Homo sapiens: one gene and its partners. The protein of the gene in region 1 interacts with the protein of each later gene in a pairwise test. Each region holds a gene or a part of one and is shown in the gene's direction. Other genes may lie near its edges. The genes, in order: PLAGL2, ZNF564, PAX9 and FAM90A1.

What was found.
Region 2: the proteins of PLAGL2 (region 1) and ZNF564 interact in binary tests that used the Homo sapiens proteins (3 or more experiments, as listed by UniProt).
Region 3: the proteins of PLAGL2 (region 1) and PAX9 interact in binary tests that used the Homo sapiens proteins (3 or more experiments, as listed by UniProt).
Region 4: the proteins of PLAGL2 (region 1) and FAM90A1 interact in binary tests that used the Homo sapiens proteins (3 or more experiments, as listed by UniProt).

The regions. Positions count from the first base shown.
Region 1 is NC_000020.11:32,204,724-32,212,337, reverse strand, and holds the start of PLAGL2 (zinc finger protein PLAGL2), read left to right. Parts: upstream 1-4,594; 5' UTR 4,595-4,697; intron 4,698-5,774; exon of another isoform or gene 5,775-6,042; intron 6,043-7,134; exon of another isoform or gene 7,135-7,244; intron 7,245-7,255; exon of another isoform or gene 7,256-7,614. Other genes in the region: POFUT1 (GDP-fucose protein O-fucosyltransferase 1 isoform 1 precursor), read right to left, coding at 2,146-2,267, 4,273-4,396. UniProt on the Homo sapiens protein: Shows weak transcriptional activatory activity.
Region 2 is NC_000019.10:12,527,477-12,534,496, reverse strand, and holds part of ZNF564 (zinc finger protein 564), read left to right. Parts: intron 1-5,800; coding exon 5,801-5,927; intron 5,928-6,132; coding exon 6,133-6,193; intron 6,194-6,580; coding exon 6,581-7,020.
Region 3 is NC_000014.9:36,657,512-36,664,860, forward strand, and holds the start of PAX9 (paired box protein Pax-9), read left to right. Parts: upstream 1-4,348; 5' UTR 4,349-4,578; coding exon 4,579-4,582; intron 4,583-5,385; coding exon 5,386-6,012; intron 6,013-7,349. UniProt on the Homo sapiens protein: Transcription factor required for normal development of thymus, parathyroid glands, ultimobranchial bodies, teeth, skeletal elements of skull and larynx as well as distal limbs.
Region 4 is NC_000012.12:8,224,619-8,232,283, reverse strand, and holds the start of FAM90A1 (protein FAM90A1), read left to right. Parts: upstream 1-4,665; 5' UTR 4,666-4,804; intron 4,805-5,805; 5' UTR 5,806-6,012; intron 6,013-6,269; exon of another isoform or gene 6,270-6,291; 5' UTR 6,292-6,448; intron 6,449-7,395; 5' UTR 7,396-7,451; coding exon 7,452-7,574; intron 7,575-7,665.

The DNA.
Region 1 (7,614 bases):
ATCATGCCACTGCACTTCACCCTGGGCAACAGTGAGACCTCGTCTCAAAAAAAAAAAGAAAAAAGAAACACAGGCCTGTAATTATGGAGGAGTCTGAGTCTGGGCCACAGATAAATTTGGGAGGTACACGGAGAAGAGTAAAAGCCACAGGAGTCAACAGATATTTATAGCAAAGCAAGTAATGGTAATAATAGCAACTAATATTTATTGCATGTTGACACAGTGCTAGGTACTGCACTCATCACTTTACATAGATTTGCACATTTAATCCTGAGGTAGGAATATAACCATCTCCAGGTTACTTATGAAGAAACCCAAGCATACAGAATCTAGATAACATCTGAGGTCACATAGCTAGTAAGCAAACAGAAAGAGGAGAAACACTAACATCTAAACAGTGGGTGGAGAGAAAGGAGCCCCTGATACAGTGGAAAGAGGAAAATGCTGAGAGGTTAGATTGTAGCAGGGACAGGTGGTGTCTTGGAACAGGGAAGTTCAGGAAGGAGAAGCTTGCAGGGTCAAGTGCCAGTGGGAGGTCAGGTGAGAGAAAGACTGGGAAATAACCCCTGCCAATTTGGAGGTCACTGGTGACCTCAGTGAGAATGCTAACAGTGGCGAAGAAGAGCCTTGTTGGAGCAGGTTAGTAAGCCACAGAAAGCAAGGAAGTGGGGACTTGGAAAGACAACTGGCTGAGAAGGCAAGGAGACAGAGGCAAGCAAGCCAGAGGGAGATGGATGGGCAATGTCTACACTGTAATAGTGAGTGCGAGGCCAGGCGCAGTGGCTTATGCCTATAATCCCAGCACTTTGGGAGGCCAAGGCAGGCACATCATGAGGTCAAGAGATTGACACCATCCTGGCCAACATGGTGAAACCCTGTCTCTACTAAAAATACAAAAATTAGCTGGGCGTGGTGGTGCGCCTGTAGTCCCAGTTAATCAGGAGGCTGAGGCAGGAGAATCGCTTGAACCCGGGAGGCAGAAGTTGCAGTGAGCTGAGATCGTGCCACTGCACTCCAGCCTGGCAAGAGAGCAAGACTCCATCTCAAAAAAAAAAAAATAGTGAGTGCGAAATTATCAGAACATCAATGGTTTCCATTAACTGAGGACTCTAGGATCTGTACGTTGATAAGCTCAGTTGATTCTAAGAGGGAGGCGGCATATGACAACACTGAAGGCGTGTTACTGCCACTGACACATTCAGTCCTTACCACAAGAGGGTAACAAGAATCATTACCAGCTTATTTTTAAAATGAGGACACTGAGGCACAAAGAGGTAAAGTACCCTGTCCAGGCCATGCAACTAGTAAGAACCCAAGTCAGACTATGATCTCTGGTACTCTGGCTTTTGACTGCTGCTCAAAACCTCTGTAAATACTGGCATGCAAAGGAAAAAGTAAAATCTATGCAGAGAAAAGGTTGTAAGAATGAAATTAAGTGTTTTGTTCACACTAAGTATTATTTCTGATGTCTATTGGAAAATTATTAAGTCAATTCATCAAATACTAATTAAGTTCCTACTGCCAGGCTCCGGGAGATACAATATGAACAACGACACAAGGTCACTGGAAGACACAAAGAATAAGCAAGGAACTGGGGGCCGGTGAGCATCGCATGACAAGGGAGCCCCTTGATGGGGTGAGAGGCAGCACTGAAGCCAGACTACCTGGGTTGTGGCCTTGGACATGTCATTAAATAACCTGTGCCTGCATGTCTCCTTTAAAATTGATAATAGCATCTGCCACCCTTGGCCAATGGAATGCACAGAGGGTAGGACCAATCAGGGAAGGAAATGGAGGCTTTAGGTTCAAGTCACAGGCTCTGGAGTCAGACAAAGATAGCTTTGAATTCCAGCTCTCCTACTCACAGGCTGTGTGATCTTGGGCAAGTTACCTAACCTCTGTAAACCCCGGTTTCCTCACAGGCAAGTGATGAGGGTGAAATGAGCTAATTCTCATGCAGCCGCACACAACAGGTGCTGGATAAATAAATGTTAGGCATTGTTATTGCAGTGAAGACAGTTCTGGCTGGAGGTAGGGAAATCTCAGAGGAGTGGGAGGTAAAGCCCAGAGGACTTGAGGGTTAAGTGTAAGTAAGCAAGACTGAGAAAGGGCGGAGAAAGGCCAAGGTCAGTGGGAAGTACTCACGTTGGTGAAAGGAGGCTTGTGATGCTGGTACTCAATCCAAGGAGGGACAGCCAAGGTACGGTTTAGCAGCTTTGCAAATGCCAGAGAGCCCAAGAAGTGATCGGCCTGGTTCCCAAAGCGCCCTGGAAATGGTACATTGCGGGTGAGGTGAGGCCTGGGGCATGGAGGGCATAGAGCATGCAGGGCTCAGAAAGGTTGTGGAGCCAGGGGTAGAAAGTCAGGGATACCAAGGAGAACTAGGGGAGCTGGCAGCATAAGAACAAGTCTGGACTCTTGGGTCTGATATCCAAGGCTCTTCAGGTCCTGCAACAACTGCTTCCGCCACTCCAGGTTTCTTGCTGTTTCCCCAACATGCTCTACAATTCCCATCCCCACCCAATGCCTCTGATCTTGCTGTCCCTCAGCCAGAAGAGCTTCTACCTCTATCTCCATTCACCTGCACATGGACGGGCAACTCGAATGCCTCATTCACTGGGCTCCTTTCACCAATCCCCTGCCATACTCACTCTCCCTCCTTTACCTCCCACCTTGGCTCTGAGCTACTTCAGTTCTTCAATTTTCCTCAAGTATCTTTGCTCACTTCCTGGCCTTCGTACTGGCTGATTCCTCAGCCTGTGAATGCCTCAGAAGCAAGGACCCTGTGTGATTCCTTTTCTTAATCCCAGCATGGCACCTGTTCATTCATTTCACAAATATGATTGAGAGGCCACAATGTGCCAGACTCTGTGCTAGGTGCTGGGATACAGGAATGAACAAGAAGGACAAGGCCTCTGCCCCTAAGGCACTCACAGTTCACTGCAGAGACACTAAACATGTAAACAAATACATGAAAAATGTTGATAATTGCCAGAAAGAGATGAAAAAAGTTTGGTGATAGGGTAATGAGGAGATTACTTGGGTAGAGGTCAGTGAAATCCTTTCTGGTGACATTTAGGCTGAGATCTAAAGGATGGGAAACAGCTGGTCAGGCAGAAATGGAGGAGAGGATTCCAGGCATAGGGACCGCCACCTGCAGCAGTGCAGACTGGAAGACCTGAGCATGTGTGAGGAACGCAAAGGAGTTAAGTGTGGCTGCAGCTGGAGGATCAGCAGAGAAGGGAGTTGTGGAGATGGCCAGTGGAGGCCACATCATTCAGGGCCCTGAAAGTCATGGTCAGGAGTCTGGAAGCCACTGGGGGCCTTAAGATCATCCACTTCCACAATGATGATCCACCATACCCATTTCAACTGTGCACCTGGCATGGTCTTTAGATTCTCCCCTACCCTGCTCTCTTTATTTTCCCTTAGTATTCATCATCCTCTATGAAACTATGTATTTATTGTTTTATGTTTACCCCTTTTTGGGTTTGCTTGTTTCGAGACAGGGTCTCACTCTGTCACCCAGGCTGGCAGTGCGGTGGCACGATCAGAGCTCACTGCAGCCTCGAATTCCTCGGCTCAAGAGATCCTCCCACCTCAGCCTCCCAAGTAGCCGCCCAGATAACTCCCAAGGGACTACAAGCACACGATACCACGCTCTGCTTTTTTTTTTTTTTTTTTTTTTTGAGATTGGATTTTCACTATGTTGCCTAGGCTGATCTCGAGCTCCTGGCTTCAAGTGATCCTGCCTCGGTCTCTCAAAGTGGTGGGATTACAGAAGTGAGCCACCGCGCCTGGCCTACTTATTCTCAATTGTTTGTCTTCCCCAACTAAAATGAAGGCTCTACAAGGACACGGAGTTTATCTTATTCACTGCGGTATTCCCAGTACAGAGAACAGGGCCCGGCACAGAATAGGTGCCCCATAAATATTTGCTGAATCAATGAAAAATCACCAGGAGCCAGCGTGGGTCAGTGACATCAAGTCCTGCCCCACTAACTCCATTTACTGGACCCTGGACTGGCTTAGACCTCAAGCAAGTCACGTAACCTCTCCCAGCCTCAGTTTTCTCATCTGTCAAATGGAAAGTTGGACACGTTGGCCCCTCTGTGCCCTTGCAACTAAGGCAGAGAGGAGAAGAGCATGCCCCGTCCCGCTCTGAGGTTCTCTCCTGGACCTGTGAAGGTGTCTCTGGGCGCATCTGAGGAGTGGCTTTTCCTCTCCCGGCCTCAGTTTCTCCATCTGAGCAGAGGGCTTGGGAGGCCTTACCCATGCAGGGGCAGTAGAGCAGGTAACCGGCCGGGTCCCAGGAGCCCGCAGGCATCCCCGGGAGCGGCAGAAGCAGCAGCAGGAAAGACACGCTCAGCGGCCGTGCCCACGCGGCGGCGCCCATGTCGGCCCGGGAACCCGAGCCAGCCGCGGCGCACAGTCGGGGAGGGAAGGAGGGACGCGAGCGCCCGCCCCGCTCCCAGCGGTCCCTGCGCGCCGCCCGCGCACCGCCCCGGCCGCTCTAGCCCGCGGGCGGGCGGGACCATAGAGATCCCGCGGCACCGCCCCCTCCACGACCCGAGCGCCCGCTCGCGCGGCTCCCACAATGCACCGCACAATGGCCCGACCGCCGCCACTACCGGGGCCTGAGGGGGCCTGGCGGAGCCCGAGCGCGGCCCGGCCCGCAGCGTGGGGCCCCGAGCGCGGTGAGTGCCGGCGAGGGCCCCAGGGGACGGCGGGGAGAGGGGCGGGAGGCCGTCTCGCTGCGTCCGCGCGCCCTGTACCCGGAGCGGCGGCGCGCCTCATCTCGGGCCCCTCAGCGCGGTCGCCCACACCCCCGACCCGGGGCCCGGTCTGCGCCAACCCGGCCCCAGATAGGCCCTGGGGTGACGAAAACTCTCCCTGGACCCCATACCTGTGTCTGGGGGACCCGAGGAAGCCACCGGTCCCCTCCCTTCCGAGACCTGGAGACGCAGTCCTGAGGGTCCCCCATTCCCGACCCCTAGGCTCCCTGGAGACCCAGATAAGGCGCTGCTGACCTTACCAGGGACCCGGGTCTGGGGGACGCAGATAAGCTGCACCTGCTCCCTCCCTCCGACACGCCTACCCAGACCCACATAACCCCCTTTCCTGCTCCAGATAGCCCGCTCTGTACCCTGTTTCATTTTCCAGACTTACATAACTCCCTTTGAGGCTTCCCTCAAATATCTGGGTCTGGAGAAGTCGAATAAGCCCCACCTGTAGTTCCCTCCTCAGTGGCCATACTCCCAGGCTTTCGACATCTTCCATCCCGTTACCCATTTTGAGACCCTCTTGAAATTCAGAGGATACACTTCTGACTATCCCCATCCCCCCAGCCTTCCAGCCCTTATAATCCCCCATTTCATTCTTGTGGGGATCCCTTAGAGACCCAGGAAAGTTGCTCATGATTCCTTCCCATCCTCGCTCTTCCTTCCCATCCCAGAGACTCCCTCCAGACTTCTCCCTGGATTTCCTTTGCTTCTCCAGCCCTCATCCACTCCCATCTCTCCCAGGCTCGGGGAATTGAACCTTTCCCACACCACAGTGGGGTGATCTAAAAGTTGGCCTGGGACCAGGCTGTGGCCCACCTTGGTGGGGAGAAAGGGGCCTGTTAGGTGGAGGATATGGGGACACCTGTGTGGGGGAATCGGTGCTTTCACCTGCAAGCTTAGCCTGTCTCCTGGCTTGTGTGTTTTTCCACCTGTCAGCCATGGGACTGTGTGTAGAGTCTGGTCTTGGGTTTCTAACCTTTCTCTCCTAAGGTGAGGCCACCAGATTGGGAGCGGGGGTGTCGAATCACGTTTTCTCCCCATGAAAATGGGGTTGTGATGAGTTGCAGCCATTTGTTCAAGGCCTCCCCAGGAGTGGGAGGCAGCAGGAATCTGAGGAAATAGTGAATCAAAGAGACTCCAAAGAGGGCCCATCTACACTGACAGAAGAATTAGCAGCCTGAGAGTAAATCCAACCCCTGTTAATCCTGTTTGATGTTTCTTGGAATGGTGCAAGTCATTGAGACTCTCCAGCCTCCCTGTAATTTAATTCTCCCACCACTCTGGAGTGGGCGGGGGGGAAGGGGGCGACAGCATTCCCATTTCCCCTCTTCTCACTGTTTTCCAGCCAACCAGTGTGTTTTAGGATTTGTTTCTGGTTCTGAGATCAGGATCTGTTTTTTGTTTTGTTTTGTTTTGTTTTTTCTTTCCTCTAAGTCTATTTATAATTTCCCAGTTGCTATTTTGGGTTCTGCTTAAGGGAAGATTCTATCCCAAGGAACGTTCTGGGTCTATTTCCTCCGGCAGGTGTTGAATTGAGTTCTTCAGATCCCCAAGTAACTCTTGGGCAGGAGGATAAAAGCTATTTTAGGGTAGTCACTGAAGTGGAGCTGTTAATCCTCTGTGGGTCTCTTTAGTTAAGAACACTCAAAGATTAACCCTTTCCTTGTGCAGGGGTGTTATCTCTCAACTGTTTTTTAGGGGGGAGTGAGGAGAATTTGAGTGTGGCAGCAGAAGGTGGAAACATGCAACTCAATACAAAGACAAAGATAATAGCTCTCTTTTGTTGGGTACTTCTAGCAGGCCAAGCTCTGTGCTGAGCCCTTTGCATACCTCACTAAAATAATCCTTACAGCAAGCCTGTGAGGTAAGTATTTTTAGCTTTACAGATGAGGAAACAGGCTAATAATGGAGAAAGAACGCAGTTTCTATAGAGATGATGTAACACCATAAAAACTATAGTTTCATCAGAGAGCAGCAGGCATCATGGCCCATAACAGGGGACGGACAGACTGGGGAGAAATATGTCTCAGTTTCAGCTTTCAAAGAGGACCATACAGAGTTTTTAGCAAGCATTCCTGTTTGGGATATGGAGCCCTAATAATACAAGAGAGTATAGGAAAGTGGCTCTCTGCTTAAGAGAGAACTCTGGCCCAGGAGATGGTGCCTGGAGGGAGGTAAAGTAAGGGGCTCTTTAAAGGGGATGTGCCGAGGGTTAGTTGTGAGGGAAAAGGGGAAGACTGCATTCTGGGGGAGATGTTGGGAAAGGAAGGAAACTCACTCTGAGGCCTGAGAAGTAACATTAAAGAGGAAAAAAAGAAGTACTATTCAGGCCTCATGCGGAAAAAGAGGCAGACACAGCCGAGACCTCAGAGAAGGCACTGCATGTATTCAGAGCACACATTTTGTATCAGCCACTTTCAAGAGTATTATTTCATTTAATCCTCTATACGAATCTTACAGGTAAGGAAAATAAATCCGTATTTTAGAAATTGAGGAAACTGAGGTTCAGAGAAATAAAGTAACCTGCCTATGGTTTCCCAGCCAGTAAGTGGCAGCTCTTCTGATAGCAAGTCCAAGGTTCTTTCCCCTTTCAGATCAGGCACTAGAAAGAATCTTAGGCTGAAAATATACTGAGTTGTGCCAGTAACTGGGAAGGATTGTGTTTGTTTTATGGAAACAGGTTCTGTCAGCTTCTCTATAGTCTATAGTTGTTAAGATTAAAATGTGAGACCAGAAGAGCAGCTTTGAAAGAGAAGTAGAATTCTTTCACAGTTTTGCTGAGGAAGGACAAGTCTGAAGGAACAGGCCTTCTGCTTATGTAAGACAAACC
Region 2 (7,020 bases), on another chromosome or scaffold:
CCAAAATAGGTGCACTGTTTTCCATTCCCACAAGTAACAAATGAGGGTTCCTATTGCTTCACATCTTTGCCATCATTTGGTGTTCTCAGTGTTTTAAATTTTAGCCATTCTAATAAAGGTTGTGTTAGTCTTTAATTTTTAAATTTGTAATTCCCCAGTGACAAAATATGCATGTTTTCATATGTTTATATGCCATCTATATATTTTATATAATCATGTCTTATGCAGCAAAGACAATTTTATTTCTTCCTTCTAAATCGATATACTTTTTATTTCCTCTGTCTTGTTGCTTATCTAGGACTTTAAGGATGTTGTTGAATAGTAGTGGTGAGAGAAGACATTCTTACCCTGTTTCTGGTCTTGTGTAGAAAGCATCTAGTTTCTCACTGTTAAGTATGATGTTAGCTGCAGGTTCCTCATTGATGTTCTTTCTGAGGAGGAAGTTCTCTATTCCCAGTTTGCCACCGTGAGTGGATGGTAGATTTTGTCAAATGTTCTTTAGTTTTTACTTTTGCCTCCTTTCATTTCTGATCTTAGTAATTTCTTTTTTCTTACCATGACTAGAGGTTTATCAGTTTTATTGGTGTTCTCCAATAACCGACTTCTGTTTTTTTTTTTTAATCTCTATTGATTTCCTGCCATTTCATTGACTTCTCCAATTATTCTGTCTGTCTGTCTGCTTACTTGGGTTTAATTTGCTCTCTTGTTTTTCTGTTTTCCTGAAGTAGACTCTTTTCTTTTTTCTGTTTTTTTTTTTTTTTTTTTTTTTGGAGACAGCAGCCTGCTGTGTCGCCCAGGCTGGAGTGCAGTGGCATGATCTTGGCTCACTGTAACCTCCATCTCCCAGGTTCAAGTGATTCTTGTATCTCAGCCTACTGAGTAGCTGGGATTACAGGCATGCGCCACCACACCCAGCTAATTTTTGTATTTTTAGTAGAGACGAGGTTTTACCATGTTGTCCAGGCTGGTCTCCAATTCCTGGCCTCAAGTAATCTGCCCGCCTTGGCCTCCCAAATTGCTGGGATTATAGGCGTGAGCCACTGCACCCAGCCCGAAGTAGACTCTTAGATGATTCATTATAAACCCTTGTTCTTTCCTGGTGTAGGTGTTCAATGCTGTAAATATTCCTCTATGCACTGCTTTTGCTGCATACCCTAATTTTTGATAAATTTTGTTTTCATTTTCATTTTAGGTCAAAAATTATTTTTGATTTCTCAGACTTCTTTGATCCATGTGCTTATTTAGAATTGTGTTGTTTAATCTCTAAAGATTTGGGGGAGTTGGTAACTATCTCTGTTATTGATTTCTAGATGAATGACTTGTGGTCTGAGCATACTTTGTATGATTTTTTAAAATTTTTCATATTAAGGTGTGTTTTATGCCCCAGTATTTGGTTTATTTTTGTGAATATTCCTGTGAACTTGAGAAGAATTTGTGTTTTGCTATTGTTAGATGAAGTATTCCATGCATTTCAATTAAATCCAGTTGTTTGATGATGCTATTTACTTTACTATGTCCTTTCAGATTTTCTGCCTGTTGGATCTCTTAATTACTGCTGGAGGGGTGCTGCAGTCTCCAACTATACAAGTAGATTAGTGTATTTTTTCTTTGCAGTTCTATCAGTTGTATTTTGCCACATGTATTTTGCAACGCTTGTTATGCAAACACACACTAAGGGTTGTCAGGTTTTCTTGGCATGTTGAGTCCTTTATCATTATGTGATGCTCACTTATATCTCTTTATTTATTTTAAAAATTTAATTTATTTTTTTTAGAGACAGAGTCTCACTGTGTCTCCCAGGCTGGAATGCAGTGGTGTGATCATATAGCTCTTTGCAGCCTTGAACTCCCAGGCTGCAGCAATCTACCTGCCTCAGCTTCTCAAGTAGCTGACTGCAAGTTTGTGATACCCCAACTGGTTAATTAAAAAAAAAATTTTTTTTTTTTTTTTTTTTTTTTTTTTGAGACGGAGTCTCGCTCTGTCGCCCAGGCTGGAGTGCAGTGGCGCGATCTCGGCTCACTGCAAGCTCCGCCTTCCGGGTTCACGCCATTCTCCTGCCTCAGCCTCCCGAGTAGCTGGGACTACAGGCGCCTGCTACCACGCCCGGCTAATTTTTTGTATTTTTAGTAGAGACGGGGTTTCACCGTGTTAGCCAGGATGGTCTCAATCTCCTGACCTCGTGATCCGCCCGCCTTGGCCTCCCAAAGTGCTGGGATTACAGGTGTGAGCCACCGCGCCCGGCCAAAAAAATTTTTTTTTTTAAATTTTTTTTATAGAGATGAAGGTCTCGCTGTTCCCCAGGCTGGAGTGCAGGGTCTATTCACAATAAATTATAGCGCATTATATCCTTGAACTCCTGGTCTCAGGTGATCCTCCATCTCAGCCTCCTAAGTAGCTGGGACCATAGGCATGTGCCACTGCACCTGGCTTATCTCTGTGTTTTTTCCTTTCTCTGAAGTGTACTTTGTGATATTAAGATAGCCATGCCATGTTTCTTTTAATTAATGTTAGCATTTTATATATTTCCCTATCCCTTTACTTTTAATATGTGTGTCTTTGTATTTAAAGTGGTTTCCTTTTAGCCAACATACTATGTTTTTAAAATCCACTATAACAGCATCTGTCTTCTAATTATATTTGGACTATTGACATTCAAAGTGATTATTGATACAGTTGTATTAATATCTACCATATTTTTTACTTTTTTCTATTAGTTGCCCTTGCTTTTGTTTCTTTTTTTGTCTCTGACCTTCCTTCTTGGGCTTTAATTGAGCATTTTACCTGAGGTGTGACATATTTTGTAATCATATGATTTGTTAGTGAGCCTTTGTTCCTGGCCTGGGTTGTGGCCTTCTGTGGTATTGTAAGAAAGATATGTGGTCTTTTTTCCTCAGTGCCTACCATGGTTCTCCTATTTTTTTTTTTATTTTTTTTGGAGACAGAGTCTTGCCACCCAGGCTGGAGTGCAGTGGCACAATCTCGGCTCACTGCACTTTCCACCTCCCAGGTTCAAGTGATTCTCCTGCCTCGGCCTCCCAGGTAGCTGGGGTAACAGGTGCGCGTCAACATGCTTGGCTAATTTTTGTATTTTTAGTAGAGACGAGGTTTCGCCGTGTTTCCCAGGTCAGACTCAAACTCCTAACTCAAATGATCCTGACTCAAGTGAACTCAAGTGATCTGCCTGCCTCAGGCTCCCAAAGTGCTGGGATTACAGACATGAGCCACCATACCTGGCCAGCATTCAGAATTCTTGTTAAAGGTTAGGGAAGCTATCATGTTGTTCTTCAGAAGACTTTGACCATTGTTAGATATTCATTATTCCTGCTACATTTGGAGAAGAACTTTTTGTTGACTCTTCAACAGTTTTTAGGGGATTTATAGAATTTAAAAAATATTTTGTAAGAGGCTATCTTGAGGACATTTCATTCTTTCTCAGAACCCATCTTTCCAGCCAGGTGTGGTGGTTTACACCTGTAATCCCAGCACTTTGGGAGGCTGAGGCAGGAATTTGAGATCAGCTTGAGCAACAAAGTAAGACCCCATCTCTACAAAAAATTTAAAAATTAGCTAGACATGGTGTCTTGCGACTATAGTTCTAGCTACTTGAGAGACTCAGGAGGGAGGATCACATGAGCCCAGGAGATCAAGGCTTCAGTGAGCTGTGATCATGCCACTGCACTCCAGTGTGGATGACGGAGCAAGTTCCCATTTCTAAGAAAACCAAAAGAACCCATCTTTCCCCTTATTTTATTTTGCCTTGACATTACACAATGTAGTATCACATAGTGACTGGTCAGGAATCATTTCCTCTTGAAATTTGAGAAAGAGGATTTTATGTTCTTTTGGAGAAAAGCACTGCTGATCCCTTCGTGTATTTTATAATCATGGTCAAATTCACCATCAAACCATCTGGACTTGAATGAAATCCCTCAGAAATTGCAACTCTTAACCTGTTCCTCAAGGTTAGCAAGTCATAGGGTACCTTGTTATGTATCTGCCAGAAAAAACTCTTCTGGCATTTTGTCTTCTTAGTATGTTTGTGTATGTAAGGTAAAAATAGGTGGGAAACTGCCCTTGACGTTCATGACTGGGGATTTTGCTGGGTGAGGGGGCGCTGCCTAAGTTGCCATACCTTCTTCTTCATGCCTGAGTTCTGTCTTCCCAGTAGCTTCCTAGCCTAGTGAAATGGGACAGAGTCAAAGGAATCAGTGAGTCTATAACAAATGTTATACATGCAGGTTAAAATGACTTCTTTTGCAGAGGAATATTTTCTTTCAACCAACTTGATCTGTCTACGTCTGATGGCCTGGAATCCTTCAGGAAAGTGTGGTCAGCTGGATTTTGTCAGAACGTGGATTTCTACGGGCCTTCTGGCCTCTCATGTTTGATGAAGGGAACAGAAGAAAATGGTTTCACTTCTTCAGTGTATATTTATTTATTCATGGATACCTTTTTCAGTTTTTATCCTGTGTTTCTTTTTTTCTTTCTTTCTTTCTTTTTTTTTTTTTTTTTGAGACAGAGTTTTGCTCTTGTCACCCAGGCTGGAGTGCAGTGGCACAATCTCTACTCACTGCAACGTCCGCCTCCTGGTCTCAAGCGATTCTCCTTCCTCAGCCTCCCAAGTAGCTGGTATTACAGGTGCCCACCACCACGCCCAGTGAATTTTTTGTATTTTTAGTAGAGACAGGGTTTTGCCATGTTGGGCTGGCTGGTCTCAAACTCCTGATCTCAGGTGATCCGCCTGCCTCTGCCTCCCAAAGTGTTGGGATTACAGGCATGAGCCAGTGCGCCTGGCCTACCCTGTGTTTCATGGAATGCTGATTGGTGTGAGATATGAAAGGAAATGGAAGTTTTTCCTGGTAGGAATGATGATCTTAAATTTTTTTTTTTTGAGACTTAGTCTCTCTCTGTCCTCCAGGCTGGAGTGCAATGGCATGATCTCAGCTCACTGCAACCTCCGCTTCCTGGGTTCAAGCTATTCTCCTGCTTCAGCCCCCCGAGTAGCTGGGATTACAGGTGCATGCCACCATGCCCGGCTAATTTTTTTGTATTTTTGGTAGAGACGGGGTTTCACTGTGTTGGTCAGGCTGGTCTCAAACTCCTGACCTTGTGATCCTCTTGCCTCAGCCTCCCAAAGTGCTGGGATTACAGGTGTGAGCCACCAGGCCTGGCCAAAATTTGTTTTCTTTGTATAGCATTTTATTTGTTTCTCCAAGGTGAACTGGATCCTGCCATTAGAGACCAATAAAACTTGTAGTGACTACAGTAAAAATGTAGAGATCAGTTGCATGTTTTCATGGGGTAATTAAATTTATGAGAAAGTGAATGTAGACGGAATTCTGACAACCATATTTATTTATCATAAAATAAATGTTTGGAGACTGCCACATCGTTTTGTCGACTTTTTTGTTTTGTTTTTTGTTTGTTTGTTTGAGATGGGGTCTCTCTCTGTCAGCCAGGCTGAAGTGCAGTGGCGTGATCTTGGTTCACCGTAACCTCTGCCTCCCTTGTTTAAGCGATTCCCCTGCCTCAGCCTCCTGAGTAGCCGGGATTAACAGGCATACGCCACCACGCCCAGCTAATTCATATATCTGTAGTAGAGATGGGGTTTCACCATGTTGACCGGGCTGGCCTCAAGTTCCTGACCTCAGGTGATCTGTATGCCTTGGCCTCCCAAAGTGCTGGGATTACAGGCATGAGCCACCACACCTAGCCATTTGTGAACTTTTATGAATTGGGTTTACATCCCTGTACTGTCATCTCATTCTTCCTCCTGCATTGCATATTTGGGATGTTTTAGGACTCAGTGGCCTCTGAGGATGTGGCTGTGAACTTCACACTTGAGGAGTGGGCTTTGCTGGATCCTTCCCAGAAGAAACTCTACAGAGATGTGATGCGGGAAACCTTTAGAAACCTGGCCTGTGTAGGTAAGGATGACATCATTCCTTCTTTTAGTCAGTTAGAGAAGAAGTATTTCTTGCTTTTTAATGCTTTTTCATGATGTCTAATGTGGAAAAGGGAATACTTGGGTGAATAAATCAGGGTTGTTTGCACCTTATCATGAACTTAGAATCTAGTCATTTTTCTGTAATGTCTATCAGTTCATAAGGATTTTTTCTGACTATATTTTAGGAAAAAAATGGGAAGACCAGAGCATTGAAGATTGGTACAAAAATCAGGGGAGAATTTTAAGGTAATTTGCACTGACAAGATAAAGCAATGTCTCCTTCTTAGTATGTCATGAAATTTTAAAAATAAGTAAACAAACCAGTAAGCCCAGCTTCAGATTTATTTATTCCTACAACTTTTTCACCAGAAAAAGAAAAAGTGGCATAGATGTTCAGTGTTGCAAAATCATTCACTTGGAAATAGTATTAAGAAACTGTATATATGGATATCACTTTTTTGGTGATAGCTACTGTCAAGCTCTCTTGCAGAGCATTCCATCCATTCACTTTCAAACAATTCATACAGGCCTGAAAACTTACCCTTTCCGCGATTATGGTAAAAATGTAAGTCGAATACCTATTAATAAATATAAAGTCACAAACCACTAAATCTTGCTTTCTATTTTTTCCAGAAATCATATGGAAGAGGGACTCAGTGAAAGTAAAGAATATGATCAATGTGGAGAAGCCTTCAGTCAGATTCTCAATCTTAATCTGAACAAGAAAATTCCTACTATAGTAAGACCATGTGAATGTAGTTTGTGTGGGAAAGTCTTCATGCATCATTCATCCCTTAGTAGGCACATCAGATCTCACCTTGGACACAAACCATATGACTATCAGGAATATGGAGAGAAACCATATAAATGTAAGCAGTGTGGGAAAGCCTTCAGTTCTTGTCAATCCTTTCGAAGACATGAAAGAACTCACACTGGTGAGAAACCCTATGCATGTCCGGAATGTGGGAAAGCCTTCATTTCTCTCCCAAGTGTTCGAAGACACATGATTAAGCACACTGGAGATGGACCATATAAATGTCAGGAATGTGGGAAAGCCTTTGATCGCCCAAGTT
Region 3 (7,349 bases), on another chromosome or scaffold:
GGTGATCGGAAACAGGCAGGCGGAGAATTAAAAGCGGGTTTCAGACAGCAACAGGCCCCTCCCCTGCTCTCGCAAGGAGAAAGCGGGCGACGAGCGCTCGCAGCCCGTGGGGCTGATCCCACCTCCCGCAGGGCTCCGGTCGTGTCGCTGTCGGACCGCAGAACGCCGGGACGCATTTCCGAGCTCGGGCCCGACCCAACCCGCTGCCATTCTAGCTACCTAGTGGAGCCGCGGAGAGACTCTTGAACCGTGAGGCTCCTTGATGAGAAGGTGGAGAGGCTGCCGGGCTATTCTCCGAGCATCTTCCGGCCGAGCTCTGCTCCTCTCCGTGCGCTTGCGGCTTCTCCTTGGGCTAGCGCGTCCGCAGTCCCTCCAAGTCCAGGCCGCAGGTCAGTGTGCGGGCGCCTCCTGTCCTCCTCTCCCACCAGAGGACCCCTGAGGGCTGTCTCCATCCCCAATCCCCGCGACTGCTCCTTTTAGCCGCCATCCCCTCCCGCAGCGCAGATCCTGCAGGGGCCAGCGGTCCAGGGCGGACCCTCCCTCGCCCTGGGCGCGGGGCGAGCTTCTGGCTGTCACTTGCCGCTGCAGTTTCAGGGAAACTCAGCTGGCCGCTTACCCTGCAAGACGGGGACATAGCAGAGGGCCGAGTTCTGGAGAAGCTGGGCTTGTTTTTCTCTCTGCACCGCGCGCAATGCCCCAACTGACCCTGAAGGGTCTTGCCTTTACTGCATTTGCCCCCAGACGGCTAGAAGTCAATGCACTATGAAAATCCCAGTCCCGGACCTCGGACTCTGGCTGTCTTACAATCCCTGCAACTCCTCCGAGTGGACAAGAGGCGGGCACCGTCGCCTGGGCCTCGCTTGGGGGGGGGGGGTCCTGTCCCCAGCAGGGGGCAAGTTGGAGGAATCAGCTCCTTAATATTTTCTGCTAGCTCTGCTTGTCATAACTGCAACTCGGAATAGAACAACCTCTCTCCCGTGCATACGCACCCCCAACTCTCGCCCTATCCTCCCATCCACAGTCATCACTGACCTGTAGACCCGGAGGAGCAGGCTTCCGGGGGTCGGTCCAGGTTGGGGATACAGGGAGGGGTCCTCGCGTTCCGCACAACCTGTAGTGCTTGGGTCTGACTTCGGCAGCCCTCGGGTACAGTCTGCCGGGCTAGATTCCCGTTGCTTCTCCGCGTCTCTCCGCGGGCCGCTCTAGCGCCGGGAAGGGGGCGCCGCAGGTGACTGCCCGCGGCACTGGGACGGCTGACAGATTTATGGAGACTTCACAGCATCTGGCTGGGGTCCGCGAGGGCAGGGCGGAGTCCGGTCGATCCGATGCTGGGGTCTAAAGCTTCCCCAGCCACACGCCTGGGCCGAGTCGCCCCCAGAGTCCCCGGCCCCTGCTCCCCTTGGGCGGGTGTACACAAGGATCCGGCCAGCGCCGAGTGTACTGGTTCCTCCCACCCAGTGTAGCCCCCTCCTTCACACTCTCGGCCCGGCTTCCAGTCTCCCACTGAGTAAATATTTATCCAGAGAGCGAGTCGCCCCTCGGAGGAGGCCTCGACGCGGCTAGGGAAAGGCTTTTTGGCTTCTCCCTGGCCTGAGCCAGCTGCAGGCCTTACTGGTGTTTTGGTTTTGGTCTTAAATTTCTCCTTTTAGTCGAAATTCTTCCGATCTCTTTGAGATCTTCTGAGTCCAGAGTGAGCAGTGTAACCAGGCGGCAGACTCCAGCTGACCCTTGTTCTTGTTCTAGGTCCTGCATCCTTACATTCATCGGGACTGACCAGACCTTAGTGTTCTCTCTTTTCCTTCCTTCATCCTCTTTCTCTGCCTCAGATCCGTCGTCTCTCGGTCGGTCTCAGCGGGTCGCTGACTACCTCGCCCTAGCACTCGGTCCGCGCCCCGGGAAGGCTTCAGCATCACCCTCTTCTGCTGGGATCCCGCTGACCCTGTCTGCAGCTTCGGCTTCTCTTGCTCCCAGAGCGGGGTCTTCGGCTTGCCGCGGATACTTAGTGGCCCAAAACACCTAAAATTGACTCTTCCTGCGCTCTTGAGAATGCCAAGAGCACCCAGTACCTGCAACCGCCGGCATGAGTGGGGCCTGCGGGGAGCCGCCAGAGCTGCGGACAGGCCCCCTGCCCACTGAGTTGCTACCCCTGGCACGCCCAGGGGATCCGCAGCAGCTGAGGCCACATGGTCACAGCCAAGTTCAGCAGGTGGAAAGGGAGAGATGGCATTGAACCTATGTGAGAACTGGGAAGATGTGTGGCAGCTGAAGGAGTTGGTAGGAACAAGAGGGAGTTGTATGTTACCTCCATATAACCAGAGCTCTAAACCATATCAGTTTCTGAACCAGTCTAGGCTGGTGCTGCAGAACTGCTAAAGCTCTCGCAGAGTCCCCAGACCCCCCGCGGGACATGAGGTCTTGCCTGTTCGTATGCGAACATCCTTGTACCCGCCTAGCAGCCCTGCAGACTGCAAATTTTCCCTGGGTGCACGGAAGTAGAGCAGATTTGGCGCAGAGGTCGATACTCACTGCCTGTCTGTGAGGGGGGAGGAGGATTCCTTCCTGGTCAAGTTGCCGGGCATGTTCATTCCCTCCCGCAAGCCTAAGGCAGAGTCATAAGCTCCCCTACGATGCGGCAAAGTCTCAACTAATTTATCTACCAGCCTTAAGAAGGAGCTGCTGCTTCTAAAATCTTTAGATTTCCGAAGGCTCTCCTTGTGTAAAAATGCCAGGCGGTGCCACACGATGTCACCCAACAGGTATTGGAGGTCAGACCAGGCTGAAATTGCTATCAAGTCAAACTTCAAGAAGATTTTAAACATTTGAAACCAACCAACAAAAAGGGACAAGTTCAAGTATGTCTAGTTGTGGGATTTCCCCCAAGATTCCGATTCTAAAGAGTGGTGTTTTAGTTCATCTTTACCTTTCACATCCTCCATTCTGTTAGGTAATTTTGAATTTAGAGTGCATCCTAACCATAGAAGTGGGAATCTGGAGATCTGTTCCTTTGCAGAAGCATGGCTGATCATAGTTTTTTCCTGGGTTCTTGCAACTTACTGACCTGAGATCTGGGACCAGTCAGCTTCTCTGGGTGTAGACCGCAGCCACACACATCCCTGGGGACTGTTGGGGAAGCAGCCTGAATCCTGTGTGCACAAGGAGCCTTCTGGATTGTCAAGTAGCAGTAACAGAGTTCACGACCCCAAGCAGTACAAACTCCCAAATTCACGAAAATATTTCTCTTCTTGTTTATTATTTTGATTCACATTCTCCACAACCCTAACTGCAAATATTAATAACTTTGGCTGCAAAAAAGCATACGGTACACTTTAGATTAGACTTACAGTGAATAAAAGTGAAAATTCAGAAGTAGGCAGAACGACAGGGCCTCTGGAGCTTAATGGAAGACGAGGGAATTACATCCATGTGCAGCGTCGGTGTCCACTGTCTTGGGACTAAGTCTCTTTCATATTTAAACAAAACTCTTTCGAGAGGGCTCGCTGGTTTGGAGAACCCTCACAAACGCTGCCACCGAGGGCCAGGGGCCCAGGACAGTGGCTGAATGTGGCAGAGCCTTGGGCTCCGTAGTGAGTGCCCCACGCACTGGCAATTGGTCGACTTGGGGCTGTGCGCTAGCGTTAGCCGCCTGTGGTTCAGTTCCCCGCACACGGCGTGGCCCGTGCCTCGAGCCTGTGTGGCTAGTGGTTGGCCGGTCCACCTGGACTGGGGGGTCGCCGCAGGAAGCTGGCGGTAGGAGGAACCTCCCTGGCCTTAACAGTGGCCCCCACCTGTGGCTCGGGCTCCCCGCAACCTCCTGGTTTCTTTGGCCGGCCTATCTTCTCACACCTGCGCTCTCGCCACCTGGCATGGACTGAAGTGAGGTAGAATCGGCAGGTGACACAGATCCTCTCCTGACAGTCCCCAGAGGCCCGCATGACAGATTTTGCTAAGACAACTCCCTCACCCCTGTGCACGGTGGCGCCCGCCTCCCACCTATAGCCTTAACTTCAATTCTGAGATGTCCATCGTTCCCCGGAGGAGGTCTCCTCGGGCCCCTTCTCCCTTCGAGTCATTCACATTCAGACCAAACGCTTTCATTTGTTTATTCAGCATTTTACCAGCCTGATTTTGCTGTCTTTTTGTGCCGCTTCTGGGAAGATGTCAAACACCCATTTTCATTGTATTTAGTCACCCAGGTGGGGAGCTAGCCTGAAAGAGACAGCGGAAGGAGTTTCCTGGACTGCGCTGTCGCTCACCGACCCGCACCAATCACCATGCAGCTTGCCCTCGGACCCGCCCCTTTTAGGGCGTGTCCCCAGTGAGTGATAGACGGAGCCGCCCTGCCCTGCTCAGCCCAGCCCACGTTGCTGCTTAGATTGAAATGCAGAACTCAAGCCTCTTTCATCGGGGCACAGACTTCCTTTTACTTCTTCCTTTTGCCCTCTCGCCTCCTCCTCCTGGGAAGAAGCGGAGGCGCCGGCGGTCGGCCGGGATAGCAACAGGCCGGGCCACTGAGGCGGTGCGGAAAGTTTCTGTCTGGGAGTGCGGAACTGGGGCCGGGTTGGTGTACTGCTCGGAGCAATGGGTGAGTGGCGGCGGGGGACTCTGTCAGAGCCGGGAAGGGAGGGAGGGAGCGAGCGGGCAAGGGAGGGAGGGAGGGAGGGAGCGCGAGGGCGCGCGCCACTAGGCGCTCACATTCTCTATTGACTTTGCTCGTGTTCCTACAAGTTGTAGGAACACGCTAAGGGTCAGCGGCGCACAGCAGTTCAATGTGAACGCTGGCTACTGGGTGGCTGTTGATGCCATTTTCTGATTTTAAGAGAAGGGAGCTGTGGCATCAGCGAGCCCCTCAGCCCGAGTAGCAAACCAAGTTTTGTTTCACACGCGCGCACACATGCAAACAAAACAGGAAAAGAAAAGAAAAGAAAACAAACAACAACAAATAAAACACCCTCTAGCTTCCCCTAGACTTTGTTTAACTGGCCGGGTCTCCAGAAGGAACGCTGGGGATGGGATGGGTGGAGAGAGGGAGCGGCTCAAGGACTTTAGTGAGGAGCAGGCGAGAAGGAGCACGTTCAGGCGTCAAGACCGATTTCTCCCCCTGCTTCGGGAGACTTTTGAACGCTCGGAGAGGCCCGGCATCTCACCACTTTACTTGGCCGTAGGGGCCTCCGGCACGGCAGGAATGAGGGAGGGGGTCCGATTGGACAGTGACGGTTTGGGGCCGTTCGGCTATGTTCAGGGACCATATGGTTTGGGGACAGCCCCAGTAGTTAGTAGGGGACGGGTGCGTTCGCCCAGTCCCCGGATGCGTAGGGAGGCCCAGTGGCAGGCAGCTGTCCCAAGCAGCGGGTGCGCGTCCCTGCGCGCTGTGTGTTCATTTTGCAGAGCCAGCCTTCGGGGAGGTGAACCAGCTGGGAGGAGTGTTCGTGAACGGGAGGCCGCTGCCCAACGCCATCCGGCTTCGCATCGTGGAACTGGCCCAACTGGGCATCCGACCGTGTGACATCAGCCGCCAGCTACGGGTCTCGCACGGCTGCGTCAGCAAGATCCTGGCGCGATACAACGAGACGGGCTCGATCTTGCCAGGAGCCATCGGGGGCAGCAAGCCCCGGGTCACTACCCCCACCGTGGTGAAACACATCCGGACCTACAAGCAGAGAGACCCCGGCATCTTCGCCTGGGAGATCCGGGACCGCCTGCTGGCGGACGGCGTGTGCGACAAGTACAATGTGCCCTCCGTGAGCTCCATCAGCCGCATTCTGCGCAACAAGATCGGCAACTTGGCCCAGCAGGGTCATTACGACTCATACAAGCAGCACCAGCCGACGCCGCAGCCAGCGCTGCCCTACAACCACATCTACTCGTACCCCAGCCCTATCACGGCGGCGGCCGCCAAGGTGCCCACGCCACCCGGGGTGCCTGCCATCCCCGGTTCGGTGGCCATGCCGCGCACCTGGCCCTCCTCGCACTCCGTCACCGACATCCTGGGCATCCGCTCCATCACCGACCAAGGTAGGGGCTCAGAGGCTGGGCGTGTGGATGTGCAGCGTCTGCCCCCGCACTCTCGCGGAGGTCCCAGTATCTGCAGCCTCAGGGACACTGTCTTTCCCACCACCTGAGGCTTTTTCCTTTGGAAACGTAAGGAGTCTTCCTAGGGGGTGTTCTGATCTCATTAACTTGAAACTCATGCCCCTGGTTTCCTTGCCACACACAGTCTTCTGCCTCATCTCAAACTACCAGACCCATAACATCCCCCCATCCCCAACACATGGTTCGCATTTTCCACCCTCCCCCGCCTCTCGCGCCGAGGCAGCCTCAGCCCGGCTTGCTCACTTGGAGAGTGCGGCCGGGGCTGGACTTGGGGCGCAGCCCGGGAGGCCCGAGCCTGCTTGGGGCTGCCGGCTGCAGACTCCGCTGTGGGCAGAGCAGCTTGCTTGGGGATCACTACGGCCGGGAGAAGTCTGGCCGGGAGGAGTCCAGCACGCCTTGGAAATTGAAGTATTCTCCGATTCTGGTAATCAGGCCAAATTTGCTCAGGCAGGAAGTTCAAATGTCACCTAATTGGTTTCGTTCTTATGCTTCACTTCATTTTCCTCGGAAATGGAGGTCCCGAAGTTACTACTAGTAACTTGCATGTAACTCATTCCCAGACGAAGTCATATTCACATTCTCTCTCTCTCTCTTTCTCTCTCCATTCACTTTCTAACTTAACAGACTTCACTGTATATATCTTAGGAAGGGAAGTGGCATCAGCCACTGCAGTGATGGAGATAAAATGCAGGCAATTCCATGCTGTCCTTTTACTGTTCTTTTCAGTTTTCCCTGAGCCTGCCACTTTCCTTTGGGGTCCCCGGGTCCCCGGGTCCCCGAGAATGCAAGTGGATATCTATCTAGTTCCTGCATGTTTTAAGCAGTGCCACCCCACTGTTTCTTTCCTTTCTCACCCCTGACCTTGCCTAGTCCTAAGCGTCCTTTCTGCCTTGTCAGAAGGATTCCCCGAGCCCTCCTGCCCAGTCCGGCTTCCGCAGGAGACCTGAGTTTGTTTTCTTTTACTGAGTTTTTTTTTTTTTTTTTAAGGCGTTAACTTTTTTCTTGGTAGGGAGAAAAGAAAGTCTGAATGACCTAGATGCAGAATTTAAATAATGTGTAGATAGTCCACTTTCTTAATTTCTCAGCCTAAAGTTTTAAAAGTGTAGAGGAAAAATTAAATAGGAAAGGGGGAAATAGTTTCTTTAATTACTTCCTGCCTTTCTTGGTTGCCACCACATTGGCACAATTATCTTTTTAAGTAATTAAAGCAGGGCTCTGATTTCTCATCTTCTTGTTTTCTGACTGCAAGTTTACAAGAG
Region 4 (7,665 bases), on another chromosome or scaffold:
ATCAGACATGAAAATTCTGGCTCCAAAAATAGCATTTTCTTTGTGCAAATAAAAACGTGTGTATCAAGTATGACGTTCCCCCAACGTGGACACACTTGGTTCCTCAGAAAGCCAAGCCCGCTGCAGCTGCCACATCCCAGGGCTTATGGTGCAGCAGGTGCTTTTTTCAAGACAGGAATCAAAGTGTTAGGAACACGGCAGACAGGTGACACCTGGATACCAAATGCAGGATGAGGAGTACTGCAGAGGTCACAGGGAAGTCACAGAACAGTAATACGCTAGCAGGGGCATGGGGCGTGAAGAACAGAAGAAGACAGGAAGCGTTTCAGAGACTCCAAAGAAGAAATCAGGGCCCACCACAGCTTCCCGGGTCATTCACCAGGTGGCACCACTGCCGTCATTTCAGCTTCTGGCCACTGGGAGGCGCTGCTCGAAAGGGTTTGCCCTGAGACTCCAAGAAGAAGCTGCGGGAAGGACAGCAGGGGCCCTGGGGTTTTAGCCTCTGGCCCAGGAGTTATGTGTCCATAACCAAAGGGAGCATAGTCTGCACCCAGCTCTCATCCCATCAGAGCTGCTGCGACTCCCGCAGGTTCTTCTGGAACTGGTTTAGCTTGCCTGCAGGATCAGGAGAGTTTGAGAAAAGCATCTGCAAAATGCTAAAGAGCAGAGCTTACCTCATTGCCTGTCCCCATCTCATCCCAGGTCACCACCTGGCTGACCCCAGGTCCCCGACCCAACAACAACCCCTCCCAAGTCCCTAACTCCCTCACTTGGACTTGAGACCCTTCACAACCCAGCAGCGCTCCGCCTCCAACGTGACATCATGCTTTCTGGAAACTTCCCCGTATGTCCCACTTTCCCACACTTGGTGCCCTGGAGCACCTTCCGGCCTCTACATGCTGTACGTTCCCCTGTGAGCACCCTCCTCTCGGCCTCTGGCCAACACAGTCCCACCCATCTGTGGGTAACAAACGGGTGTGTGTGTTCTTTTCAGCCTTGCTAAACTGTCTGAATCAAGGATCACAAACTACAGCCTGCAGGCCAAAGCCAGCCCACAGCCTGTGTTTGTAAATAAAGCTTTATTGGAACAAAGCCACACCCCTTAATCTACAGATGATCTGTGGCTACTTTCACACCACAACAGAGTACCATGGTTCTGACAGAGACTGGGGGACCCTGTCTAAATGACTTCTGACCTGGACCTTTACTGAAAATCCTCCCAATCATTCTGTTGACAAGAATGGTGTATTACTTTTTGCAATAAGAAACAAGTAACCTTTGCAGAATTCCACCCATCTTTCAAGGCTGATCCCAGAAGTTCCCTCTGCCCACGCACCTACCTGATCCTGATCACTTCCTAAACTGCAGCCCGGCCCACCCGGCTCCAGCATCATTTGTGGAGTCTCAGCTCCATAAATCCAGAGGGCAGGTGGGGGTGTGTCCTAATTTTCCCGAGCCTACTGTACCGAAACAGGACAGCAGAGTAGGAAGCCTCTGTGACTTCTGCTCCCTCCCTAGCTTTTCCACCAGACCCTGCATGGTCCCACCCTGGCTGTGTGAAGCAGGGATCAGGGAGCGTGGCTCGATGTCAGTCTCCAGAACCCTGTCCACCCTGGCGTGGTGGCAGACATGGCTACCTGCAGCTGAGCTGCCAGTTCCTCTGAGTCCTCAAAGACCAGGCCATTTTCTTTATGTTTCACCAGCTCATGTAAACTGCAGAGAGAACCAAGGGAGCCTGAGAGCTGCCTGGGGAAGACACCAGACCCCTGGGGTGCCCAGCTGGGCTCCCACCCACCCCACGCTCAAGCCAGGCTGGGGGTTGGAACAGGGGGTGTGGTTTCTGGGAGCTGGTTCTTAGATTTGGCATCTGAAGGGTATAAAGGCCTGGGGGGGGTGCACATCAAAATGACCAAATCGATTTGAGGAGAGAGCCTTAAGGAAGGTTTGTACCTTCTGTGCTGGATGCTCTTCAAGGACTGAAGAATTATTTTTGCATGTTTTTCTTAATTCCATGGCCATGGAACAAGTAAAGGCAACCCCCTGGGGACTGGTTCAGCACATAAAAGATGACTTTTCTAGGACACCAGATTTGATCCCGACATTCCCTGAGCTCAGCTCACATGAGGGGCTCGCATCCCTGAATCCCATCCAGGAGCTGGCTCCTGAGCAGGGGCCAAGGGCTCAACTTGTGCTGGGGCTACTGCTTCTAGAATCTCCTCTAACGCCGCCCTTCCAAACACCCGTCTATGCTGGGTGCAGTGAGGCCACAGCATGACACTCATTTAACTCGTTCAAACCCAGCACGTGAGCTTGGCCAAAAGGGACATGGTGGGAGAGAAAAACAAAGAAAACCATGTAAGCCTGCAGGCAATTCCCGCCAATTCTACTCTAGGAGCAAAAGCCCCGAGTGGAGTTCTTGTATTTAAGGTACTTTTTTTTTTCATATTGGGTTGGTGCAAAAGTAATTGCCATTTTTAATGGCAAAAACCGTGATTACTTTTGTACCAACCTAAATATAACATGAGCTCTAAATGGAAGCAACTACTTCAGTGAGGCTCAGCCCAGCCACAGCAACCGCAGGGCTCCTCCTCGTGGCCTCCAGTGTGTGCTGGACTGACCGAGGGGCAGGGCCTCACTGTGGGCAGCTCACTCTGCACTGCTTCCCCCTCAGTGGTGGATCTGTGAAGCTATCCCCAGAAAGATTGGGGTTCTGCTCCTACCACTTGAAGTTCACGGCACACGCAGGCAAACAGCACCTGAACATGTCCACCACCTTCATGGGCAGGTCCAGGCCACTGGAGGATGTGTCCAGAGAGACACCCAGGTCCACTAACCCTGCTAGGCAAGAGGGGTGGGTCAGAGCGCTGGTCTCTGCCCTGGGAACACAAATCCTCCCAGCACAGTGAGACAACTTCCCCCGAGGGGAGTGAAAATTGGATAAGGTCCCCGACAACCCCAAGCACAAGTGGCTTAAGGTGGCCAAGCAGCCACACGGCCTGGGTGGGACATCTGAAAATGTAAGTTGACACTTTTTCTACATAGCCACAATTTGTTTTTTGTTGTTGTTGTTTTGTTTTGTTTTGAGACAGAGTGTCACTCTGTCACCCAGGCTGGAGTGCAGTGGCACAATCTCAGCTCCCTGCAACCTTCACCTCCCAGGTTCACCTCCCGCCTGTAATCCCAGCATTTTGGGAGGCCAAGGCGGGTGGATCACCTGAGGTCAGGAGTTCAAGACCAGCCCGGCCAACATGGTGAAACCCCATCTCTACTAAAAAAAAATACAAAATTAGCGAAGCTAATTCGTGGCAGGTGCCTGTAATCCCAGCTACTCAGGAGGCTGAGGCAGGAGAATCGCTTGAACCCGGGAAGGCAGAGGTTGCAGTGAGCCAAGATCGCGCCATTGCACTCCAGCCTGGGCTACAAGAGCGAAACTCCGTCTCAAAATAATAATAATAATAATAATAATAATAATAATAATAATAATAACAAGAGCGAAACTCCGTCTCAAAATAATAATAATAATAATAATAATAATAATAAACCACATCACACCCACCACAAACCAGCTGTCAGTGTGAAAATAAAGCCAAATAGCTTAACATTTCTAAAGACTAGCTGGGGCTAGGCATGATGGGTCAGGCCTGGAATCTCAGCACTTAGGGAGGCCAAGGCGAGAGGATCACTTGAGGTCAGGAGTTCAAGACCAGCCTGGCCAACATGGTGAAACCCTGTCTCTGCTAAAAATACAAAAATAAGCCAGGTGTTGTGGCGGGCTCCTGTAATCCTGTAATCTACTTGGGAGGCTGAGGTGGGTGAATCGCTTGAACCCAGGAGGCGGAGGTTGCATGAACTGAGATCGTGCACTCCAGCCTAGGCAACGGAGCAAGACTGTCTAAAACAAAGACTAGCTGGAGAATCCTGCCAGGAAAAGGCCCTCAGACTCCAACTGCTCTGCTCACTCGAAGCTGGAAGATGCGGCTCTAGAGACGCATCAGGACCAAGCCACGACTCCCCACTTGGAGAAATCAACGCGGAAAGAGACGGAGGCAAAGGAGAACCATCGCACTGGGAGAGGCGACGCTGTTTGACACATCGTCCCTGTACCTCCCAAAGCCACTGCCCTCCCACACCTGGGCAACAGTGGCCCCAACCCCAGGCCCAGCCCTCCTGCAGGAAGGAAGAGGACTGAATGGAGGGCGTGGCAGACTGAAAGGACGTGGCCTCCTCAAACCCCTTGGTAAAGGGCCTCTGGGGCCACCTGGCAGGGAGGGGCTGGCACACCAGGAAGTAGCCTCCTCCCGGGAGTTCAGCTAGAGCCCAGGTCCTGTCCCCAAGTGGCCTCCAGAGCCACCTTTTCTGAAAAAAGTACATCCTGCCCACCCCTGTTCCCCCTGCTTAAGGCCCCGCGTCCTCCCTGAGCCTCCTGCTGGCCTCTCACCTAGAAGCGGGGGTAGTCCTCGGCCCTCCAGCCAGGGGGTGCAGACCTGGATGTGCTGGAAATGCTTCTGGTGGATGAGGCGGCTGTAATACTCCCTCAGAGGCCCTTTGCCTTCACAGAGAAAAGCAGACACTGCCATGGACCCGTCTCTCTCCGTGCCACGTGGCCCCAGGCCCAAGACACTCCCCCTAGGAGGGATCCTTTTCCCAGAAGCTCCACCCCTCGGCAGCTCCAGTCAGGCCCCATCCGGGCCCTTCCAGAAGCAACCCAGGAGCCCCGAGACCTGCAGGGATGTGTGCACCCTGACCCCTGACGCATAGCCCTGCACCTGCAGCCAGCTGGCCTCGGGCTTGAAAACATGGCGGGGTAAGCACTGGCCTGGCACCCGACCGCCCACTGGGTGGACCCAGCCTTCTGTCTGTGTTGTGCGCAGGGGACACGAGGACTCCCGCTGCCCTGACACAGCCCCCAGATCACATGGCGCAGGTTCCAAGCCGCCCCTGCCCTGCCACAGCCCCCAGAGCACACGGCGCAGGTTCCAAACCACTCCTGGGAGCCTAGAGGCCAAAGGAGGGAGGAGAGCAGGACCAGCAGCTGGCCCAGACCCCGCCTCTTCCCACACCGCTTCTGCTTTTCCCCCTCCTCACTGAGTCATCTTGAAAGGGCTCAGCAGCAGTAACTGAGGGACAGGGGCTCTTCCGTTTGAAAAATTAAAAGAGGCTTGGTTAAGGCAACAATGACATGACCGGGCACAATGGCTCATATCAATAATTCCAGCATATTGGGAGGCCAAGGCAGGTGGATCACCTGAGGTCAGGAGTTCAAGACCAGCCTGGCCAACATGGTGAAACCCTGTTTCTACTAAAAATACCAAAATAAGCTGGGTGTAGTGGGCACCTGTAGTCCCAGCTACTCGGGAGGCTGAGGCATGAGAATTGCTTGACTGTGAGACGCGGAGGTTGCAGTGAGCTGAGATCACACCACTGCACCCCAGCCTGGGCGACAGAGACTGTGTCTCAAAAAAAAAAAAAAAAAAAAAAAAAGACATCAATGAAGAAACAAGAAAAAAAAAAAGATGCTTGGAAACTACTGAAAAATTAGAAAGCTTGGTATGTACAGATTCACATCTGGGCTCCCTGCCCTGCTGTGAAACCCTCTGAGCTTCAGTTTCCCACATGTAAAGCAGTATAAGACCCTATGGCAGAGAGCTGCAGTGGGGATTAAGGAGACAAGATCGTGGGAAGCACAAGGTAAAGGCGGCGTGCCCCTCCCTGGACTCCAATGCCTGGAGTCTCAAGACCAGCTGAAAAGGGAGCCAGGCACTGAAGGACAAAGCGGTGTTGACTTTCTTCATCTGTGTTTCCCAGTGCGCTCCAATTCACGGTGGTTTCCAAGCGCATTCTGGAGGAGAAAACACATGAGTGTGTGGTCAGGGTTCTCTGCTGACAGACCTACCGTGGGGAAGAAAGAGAAGCTCTGAAGATGGATCATGGCCGTGACTGCATGTCAAGGAGAATCTCCATGATGACACGGAGGCCTACGTCGAGATAGAGTAAATATGGTCCAATTAAAAGGTGTCTATTTTACCACATTTTTTAAAACAAAACAAAACACAAAAACAAAAAAGATGGAAAAGAAGACAGGGGTACAGGCACCAGTGTTACATATCTGACGGGGAACATCTATTCTTCAAAGCTTGCAGCTGTACACGTAGGTTTTAGAATGTCTGTCAGCAGTGGACATGATCTTAGAGTGGGCTGTGCAGATAGACCTTTCCGAGTCATGTAATTGGATTAAGTTAATTGTAATTAACCTACATGTAACTGATTAGGTTAGGGTACGTTCCACGTCAGGTGACCAGAGGCAGTATAAAAGGCAGCCTGGAAAGCAGAGGTCCCTCTCTGCCCCTTCCTCCGTCTTCCTGGATGCTGCATCGCTTCCAGCGGGGCTGCTCCAGCACCTGCCCATCTCAGCGCCAGCCGGGGAAAGAAAGTAGACGTGTAATTTCAGGTTAGTTTCACTGAACAGTTGTTTGTTTCACGCAATCCCTGAGGGGTGGGGGGGAAAAGAGACAAAGGAGGCCGAAAGAAAGCGATCACACTGGGGCTTGCTGATGCGGTAGGGTGTGCTCTCGTTACTAGTAATTCTTGGAACAGAAAACGAGAAAGCATTTCCGTCTCCATGTGTGGGATAAGACCAAGGTGGGAATGCGAAAAGAAATGTACTGCAGCATGCTGAATTGGTGGGTAAATGGAAAAAGGACTTTGGAAAAAAGGGTGGTTTGCCCTTCAGCCGTGTAAGACATTGATACGATATGGCACTTGTTCACCGTTCGTTTAGATGAATTCGTGTGGCATGCGTAAAATACCAGAAAAATAAATAAAGAGGGGCTGGAGCTAAAGCCAAAAAGATAGAACAGGAAAGACCATCACCTGCTAGTGTGGTAGAGAGGAAGATAACTTCTCTCTATGAATTTGTGTTTGGAAGTTGCCTAATGAAACGGCAAGAGTAGCGATTCAAGTTGTGACAGGAGGCATCCCTTATCCCAGATTTCAAACAGACCTGCCAAAGGGTGACACACGCCATGCCCTGTGGCTTCGATCATTCTGTCGGTCAAGGGAGATAGAGTCATCGTGTCTTCTACCGGAGTGAATCGTGATAGACCTAAGTCCAGTCTCCAGAATCAGTTGTTAGTTTGGGGTTGAAAGCTCAACTCCCCATACCTAGGCCACGGGCCCTGTGGCAGGCGAGGTTTACTCTTGGACTAGGTAATCATGGCAGAGGAACACACAATATCTGAGGATGCACACAGCACATTGTGTTCCACAGATTTGACCGACTGGTGGTGAGGTCTCCTCATGACCACACCGGCAAGGAATTAGCGGGGGGCTTCCTGTGGGTGTGTGAATATCCAATGTGCTTAACCATCGACTTGTGTGTGTTTGTGTGTGTTTCAGGTGACCCGACAATCAACCCCTGAAAAAGGCGGTCATAAAACCCCCAGGAGACGAAGATGATGGCACGTCGTGACCCCAAACCTGGGGCAAAGAGACTGGTGAGAGCCCAGACCCTCCAGAAGCAGCGGAGGGCCCCAGTTGGGCCAAGGGCTCCCCCGCCCGATGAAGAAGATCCCAGGGTAAGTCTAGCCCTGGATCTCTTGGGTATTGGGGTGGGGGTGGGGGCGGGGGGACGGGGTGTCACACGGTCCTCAGAGACTGGGTTGGATT